2 linked regions of the Homo sapiens genome follow. The protein of the gene in region 1 interacts with the protein of each later gene in a pairwise test. Each region holds a gene or a part of one and is shown on either strand. Other genes may lie near its edges.

Evidence for each region.
Region 2: the proteins of TMIE (region 1) and CLRN1 interact in a two-hybrid assay, tested with the Homo sapiens proteins (one large-scale study listed by BioGRID).

What each region holds. Positions count from the first base shown.
Region 1 is NC_000003.12:46,707,660-46,711,473, reverse strand, and holds the end of TMIE (transmembrane inner ear expressed protein isoform 1 precursor), read right to left. Parts: intron 2,349-3,814; coding exon 2,199-2,348; intron 1,896-2,198; coding exon 1,786-1,895; 3' UTR 588-1,785; downstream 1-587. UniProt on the Homo sapiens protein: Auxiliary subunit of the mechanotransducer (MET) non-specific cation channel complex located at the tips of stereocilia of cochlear hair cells and that mediates sensory transduction in the auditory system.
Region 2 is NC_000003.12:150,927,418-150,931,233, forward strand, and holds part of CLRN1 (clarin-1), read right to left. Parts: intron 785-3,816; coding exon 519-784; 3' UTR 1-518. UniProt on the Homo sapiens protein: May have a role in the excitatory ribbon synapse junctions between hair cells and cochlear ganglion cells and presumably also in analogous synapses within the retina.

The sequences.
Region 1 (3,814 bases):
TCTGCATAAATAGAATGGCCTTTTTCACCCCTATGTATGAGAAGCCCATGGGTTGGACCCCAAGGGCAGAGGTCGGTCAACTGCCTCCATCTGGTGTCAGAGTCCTCAGCTTCCATGGCGGGGCCTTTGGCCATGGCTCTGCCCCTCACTGCTCCTAAGACCCCATGTCATGCGCTTTCCTCATCAGCCTGGATCACTCTCCTCCCTGTACAGTGATGATCCAGGTCCAGGTCAGGAGCCAGGTTTGACTCTTCTGTGTCCCCAGCACTGGGCACAGACCATCACAGGTCTATTGAAAATCATGAATGCAGCCTTGTGAACTCAGCACCCAGAGAGCTGGCAGCGTCCCTCCCGAGTCCTGTGCCTGCCTCCGGGATGGGCCCAGGTGACTGCAGCTGCCCCTCAGCCTCTTGGCTCCCATTTCTCCCTCTATCTCATCCTAATTCAGGCTGGCAGAAGAGTCAGGGAGGGGACTTTGGCCTGGCCTGAGCCATCTGTCACTGACTGCTGCATCACCCTCCACATAAATGCCCCAGGAATAGCGCATCCTGAGGGGTCATCTCAGGAGGCCATTTTCTAGGCCTGGCTCTGAGAAGGCAATCAGCTTTATTCACAAATCTCTGCAGGCTGCTTTTCCAGCAGGCTCTCCTGGCTCAGAAACCTCTGGTGTCTCGAGACCTTAGTGTTCAGGCCTAGGTTTCAGAGCCTTAGTCTGTTCGATGCCATCTGGAAGTGCCTCTGTGCATCTTCCCTCCCCCAGGTGCTATTTGGGCCTTTGTCTTCTGGTCAGAGATGCTTCTTTTAGGTGCCCGTAGTGGGAAATGGTAGAAGAGGAAGCTGCAAAGAAGCTGGCACTGTTATGGTCAGCAGGCAGAAGGCCCTGCTGTGATCTTCTAGGGCCCTGGGACCTCCCAGCACAGCTGGGCATAGAAGGGGCCACCAGAACAGCCCGAGGTCCCCCTTGGCTTCTTAAATATACTCTGATTCCCAAGAGGAGCCCAGACTCCAGCTCTCTTTCCGGCACCCTCTAGCCCATTGGCCTTAGCTCTGTGTACCCCTGACCCAGCCCTGCAGCCCCCAGCCCCGAGCTCGAGCCTCGGGGCCTCATGCCGGGCCTGGCAGCAGCCTCAGCTTCATCACAACGTGTGAAATGAGGGTAGCCCATTGCCTTGAGCTTGATGTCTGCTGGGCTGGGGGTTCCATTTCTGAAGCCACCTCTACTTACTCCCTTGAGCTGGATCCCCTGCCAGGCTTGGGGAAGTCTTCTCACCACTGGGGCTCCTCCCTGGCCAGACAGAGTCCCTCCTGCTGCCACAGTGTCCCCCAGTGACCCTCTCTGCCTCCTCATGGCTACTCTGGGTGTGGCCTCACACCCTGACCCATGCACTTCAGCCATTTCGTGCCAGAAAGGGTGGCTGAAGTAACCCCATATCCCATTACTCCTTCACAGCCACTGCCATCCCTGGCAGAAAGGGTGGGAGACAGGCAGGTCTGGGTGGGGAGAGCAGTGTATCTGCAGAGGGACGGTGGCACCAGACCACCTCTGCCGAGACAGTACCCATGTGGATGGGGTGAAAGGAGCCAAGCCTAGGCTGGGGGGCAGGACACCTACGAGATTGTCTGGTTCCTGCCCCTGATGGGCCATGAGGATGTGGCCATGGGCCTCAGCTTCCCTCTCTGACCACAGCCTCTGTGGTCCCCAAATGAGCTCAGAGTCCAACATGCCTGGACCCCGGCCACGGCTTGAGCTCCAGGGCCCGCCAGCCCAAGCTGCCCAGGATGTCTTCATTTCTCTCCTTTCTTCTTCTTGGCCTCATTCTTCTCATCCTCCTCTACTTTGATGGCCACTGTGTCCACACTGTCCTTCTTCTTCTTCTTCTTCTTCTTCTTATCCTCTGTGGGGCAGGGGGAAGAGACCATGTGATAGTGGTGAGACAAGGTCCTGGGGTCTGACTGTCCTGAGGGGAAGAGCCCCAGAACCTCCTACACTCTGCCTTTTTCTTCCTTCTTCCTACTGGAGAATAGGCTCATCGTTCTATTTGCCTCATGCCAACCAATTTCTGTGCTCTGGTCTCCAGGGGCAGGGCTGGGGCCCCTCCCTGAACCTGCTTTGGTTGGAGCAGAGGAACAGGGTGACTCCAGGCAGCAGGACTGAGGAACTGGCTGGCGCAGCAGGGCTCAAGCCAGGGCCAACTCACCTCCTGGGACTTCTGTGAGCTCATTGAGGGGTGGCACAGTCTCCAGCTTGTCTGTGTACATCTTGGCTGCCTTTCGCTGCAGGTACCGGGCTTCGATCTCCTTCCGGGTCCGTGGCACACGACAGTTGAAGACACAGCACAGCGTGATGACTGTAGGGAGGACAGAGCAGGCTTGGCTGGGGCTGGGGTTCAGAGACCCAAGGAATGGCATCCGCCTTCCTTCAGGCCCGCCCCCATCCACCCACATGTGTCTCACCCACCAGACCCTGGCAGGAGGCTCAGCATCTTGACAAAACCCCTGTGGACCCTATGATGACCAAGGTGGCTTTCCTAAGCAGGGCTGACTTCATGCAGCTGCACAGGCCCCCGTGCTTGGAAGGGACCCTGGCTAAATTATGTCACCAGTCCTGGTCCTGAGGGTCTTTCTGACTAGACTGAGAGTCACTGGAGGGTAAGGCAGAGGTCTGCACCATGACTTAAGCCATAGCTTCCTGGGGGCCATCCAGCACTTCCAACCCAGGCCTCCGGGTGTGCAACTTAGCTTCTCCTTCCCACACCACTGAGAGCTAGGCCAAAGTTGCCTCAGTCATGAGAGGACGTGGCTCTGCATGTCCTCCTCAGCCTCCCTGAGGACATCCCTGGGCTCTCCCTGGCTAGGGCGGGAGCCCATGAGAGGGCACAGACCCTGCCCTGAGGCATTCACCTCAGACGGAGTTATTTCAGGAGTGGTTTTCCGGCTGAGGGCAGCTGCACCCACGCCAGTTGGGCCAGGTCATGGAGCTGGCCTGTCTAGGGATGGGTAGGGCAGGTTAGGGCTGCCAGGACCTGGCTGGACTGAGTTTATTTTCCTAAGGCCCCCACAGCCTGACCACCTTGGCCCCAGCCCTAGAGGAGGGGATGGAGCTGGTTCCTATTATAAATCAGATGACCAGACATAACTTCCTGGCAGACTCCTGGGGGCAGAAGGGCCCACGGAGGATTAACCAGGTCTATTTTGGGGAAGATGGATCAGATCTATGTAGCCTGGACTGGAGTACCTTCTGGGGTCATTTTATGCAACCAAGTCAGAACCCCTTCAGACAAATATTGTGGTCCTACTAGGTCTCACCCAGGCTCAGAATAAAAGAAAAAAATCAATGAATGAATGAATGGGATGATCTCAAAGCCTTTGCTGTTGGGAACAGGACTGGACTAGAGTGAATGAATTGGGGAGCCAATAGCATCCAGGCATACACTTGGAGGAGGGTGCTGCACAAGGGCCCCAGCTATAGATCCGACTGTCCAGGGGTGGACCTGAGCAGACAGCAGGCCTTATCCAAGAAGCTGGGTCCTGGATTTCTCCAGAACCTGTGTTCATGCCTGAGACTCGAAGTTGGTACCCAATCCTAACCCTCCCGGCTTAGGCCACCTCTTCTAGCCACCCCACCAGGAACCTCCTTGGGACTATGCCCACTCAGGCTCCATGCAGGCTGGTCCCAGGCCCCGGGAGGCTGGGGCTTCCTAAGGAGCTCAGTGGGCCACTGACGGCAGCCAGAGCCGGGCTCAAACACCACCCCTCACTTCAGGCCTGCCCCGCACAGCCTGGCCTGTTTGCTTCTCTTCAAAGAAGGGGAGAT
Region 2 (3,816 bases), about 100 Mb from region 1:
CCTGGCCTAAGAGTATACTTTAAACAAATTTTTTAAAATGTGTGTTGATACATTTTATAGATGTTCATTTAATACACTACTGTTTTAGGAAAGCGATTGCAGCTCAGTTTTCTGAAATCTGGCAACAAATGTGTGGATATATTAGAGATATTATTTGTTTTTATTAAAATATATTCCATGTGCCTTTGATATCTTTTTGATAGGAAGACATCTTACACACACACACACACACACACACACACATATATATATATGGAGTAACAATTTGTCGATTCTAGTCAACTGCCTTTGACTACCTGGGTCAAGCAATTTCCCACCAGATAAAACAACTTTTCAAAGCCTTCCTTCTGCTTCCCTTACTTTCCAGCCTGTATCCTTAGTACGTAATTTGTAAACATTGTCACGAAGGGTCCTGATGCTTTAATATATGCAGACTAAAAGGATATGCAAAATTAACCACATCTAAAAGTGACCAAAGCAAGTCTACTCCCTTGTAAAATTATAGAAAGGTTTGCCTTTCAGTACATTAGATCTGCAGCTACATTAGTTGTTTCTGCGTCTTTAGATTTTGCAAAAGGGAACTGAAATCCAGCAAGTCGTATTAGGAGCCCATTCAGAAAATGAACAAAAAAGCAAAAGAAAATGACCCAGAATGAGGTGGTATATTTTTCACTTTGCGTTTTGTAGACATAAGTCCCTTCTTTATAATTTGCAATTTTTTCTGAGAGGTGATGGATTTTCACTTCAGAGGCAAACAATATCATGACAAGACAGCCACAGGAGCCTGCAACAGAAGAAACAAGGTGTTGGGACAAATATTTCCTGATTGTAAGGGACAGGGAAGAGGGTCAATGTGTAAACCAAGGAATTCTCTTACCATCATCCCCATTGACATTATCCACACAAAAAATTATTGCATATTTGTAATCATGAGCCTGATTCTTCAGTCTCTAGGTGGTAGGGCTTGGGTTATGGTTCTGCTCTGAGTGAAGAAGATTTGTGTGTGCGTGTAGGAGTGCAGTGGGAGGTAAGGAGGTGGTTAGAATTAAGCTGATCTTACAAAGACTGGGAGATATTCCTCTTTGCATGATGTGAAGGCTGAATTGCTAGGCACTTTAAAGGCATAATGGTGGAATCAGGCTACAAAGCAGCCACTGCTATGATGTGGCTTCAAGAGAAAATATTTCTCTGTACTTCACAGGCCATGCAGGATAAATGTCAATCATGCAGCCTCTTGTGAAAGGCCCCAGCCTCCCTTCAGAAGGGTTACCACAGCTCCTTCAGCTTTCACTTGGCCACAGCTGCACAAAGGAAAAGGTAGCTATGGATGAGGTATTGAGGTGGCGCACATCTCTATTCTCCTTGTTTGTAACAGAATTCAGATTTTTGGCTAGACATGTGAGTGTCTTGAATTAAGACAGCATTGTTCAACTAAGGGTGGTTGGGAAGTATGGGCGGGATAGTCTTCTTGAACTATACAGGTATTAGGGGCCTGTCCTTTCTTCCCCACTTCCTCCTTCCTGTGGCTGAAATATGGATGCAATGGCTGGAGCCCCAGCATACATTTTGGACCAATGTGGCCCCAGAAATGGAAGCCATATGCTGTGGAAAAACAAGAAAGAGGGAGTCTAAATCCCAGATCCTTGGAGCCTCTGGACCAGCCCTGGACTTCAACCTCTAGATTTTTATGTGTGAGAAAAATAAACATTTGTTTTGTTTAGTACACTATTATTATTTTTCCCCCTCATCTATCACTCATTGGTAGCCTAATTTTAACAGATGTAGCTGTGATTTCGGTGAGATTGCTGTGGGACAGGGGCACTCCATACTGGCTGGAAGCTGGAAACTCTGGTGAGTGTCTCCCCCGAAGATGGACACTGGGAGACTTCCAGATGGGTGGATGGCACAGGGAGCAGAAGCAGGTGGCAGGAGGGACCAGATCAGGAGCACATAGGATGGCCAGGACTCTACAGCGCTTCCACAGCTACTGTTATATCTCAGGCCACCACAATAGGGTTCCAGTTAATAGGAGACTTGCTGGGATGGTTTTCTACCTTAGGTGAAACCAATTTGGGTTCAAACCCTGATTCCTTTACTTACTATGTAAAAGTAGGCAATTTTAATATTCAGGTCTCAATTTCTTCATCTATAAAAGGTGGCTAATATAAATAAAGCATGATTTGCATTTGGCTTTGTAATTGACACATATAAATGCTTACTAATTGGTAGCTATTCATATGGTTTTTATGGATTCCTTTTTTCTTGCAAGTCCTTATCATAATAGCTTGATTTAGGTCAAACCAATTTGGTTTCAAATCCTGATTCCTCCACTTACAATGTCAAATTAGGTATTTTATTTCAAATCCTCAGCCCACCCCATATCAGGGACACCTGACTACATCAGGGTAGGCAACACAAAAGAATGTATTACAGTGTCTTTTTTTTCTCCAAATACTCTCCCACTAATTTTATGTCTCCTTTAGGACAGGTAAATGCTTTTTACTCTTCAGTTAAAGTTAATCCAAATATCCTAGGAGTGGCAACATAATGGCTTGAGTTTCTATTCATTAATTCACTCATTCATTTATTCTCTAGACTTATATGGGGGATAGTTGTGGAGATTTAAACATTAAAGATAATACTCATGATTTTTGCTCTCATGGAGTATAATTTGGCAGAGGACATAAAATCAATTACTAACCAATTACAGTGCATGTAATCAAGGGATAGTAGAGGGGCTGTTACTGAGAGGGTGGGCAGCATTATGGAAGGTTCCTTAGAAGTAGCCAGAAGGAGCTATAGGAAAAGTTAGCTGAGCAGAGGGAGGCTGGACTGTGGGGGGAGAGTACTGCAGGCAGGAGGAGCTACGGTGCAAGTGACAGCCCCCATTCCTTTCCCAAAGGTCAGGCTGGGTTTGGGGTAGAGGCAGAGATTTGGGGGTAGGAATGAGGGGAGAGGTGAGCAGAAAAGACAACATCACATTTCTTCTACTTTAGAATTTCACATAGGACTGGCCAATCAGCTTAATCATCATCAAATAATCAAATAATATAATTTTCTTGAAATTTCACTTTCTACCATCCTCAGAGTGGTAGCTGAGAATATTCCTTTGTAAAATTTTGTCAGCCTATTTTTGTATTCTGAGCTTAAAACCAGAGCTCTCCCCTGGCAAAACCGTATTATTTCTTTATTGTTAGATCCTAACAAAAAGGCTGCAGTGCTGTTTTCTCTTTATCTTTTATTCGAAAATTGTGGAGAAAATGCCATTCCTTTTACCATAAGAGCCTTCTTTGTCTGAGGAGATGGTGAATTTCAGACAGAAGTGAAACATTATTTCCTGAGCACCTGAAAGGAAAATTCAAGCTCGGTTTCCTTTTCAAGTTGTTAAATATTTCAAAGGTACTGCTTTGTTAAGGAGACAGCATTACAGCAAGGCTGTATTTCAAATTCCTAAAGTAAAAGTTACTTGGGGTGTCATAAGACTCAAAGCCTTTTGCCATAGCTAATATTTCAAGCACACAGCCCCCAAAACAAAGTGTGCTGTCTGGTAGTAGAGAGGACAGTCTGAGATCTTGCTCTGGATTCTAGGGTTGATCACGAGGTCAACGTTGTCGTTTCAGGGACAGAGGATAGAAACCCAGCCTGAGTCTCATAACCTTTCAGTGACTGCTAAGAGATATGAAGGGAGACAACTCAGTGTGAACTTGGTATATTTTTGCTTCTCTCTGTCCATGGCTCTAAAAAAGACATGGGATCAAGGATAACTATTTATGACTTATGGACCAAAAGATATGCATGAAGAGTTTCTCTTTGTGG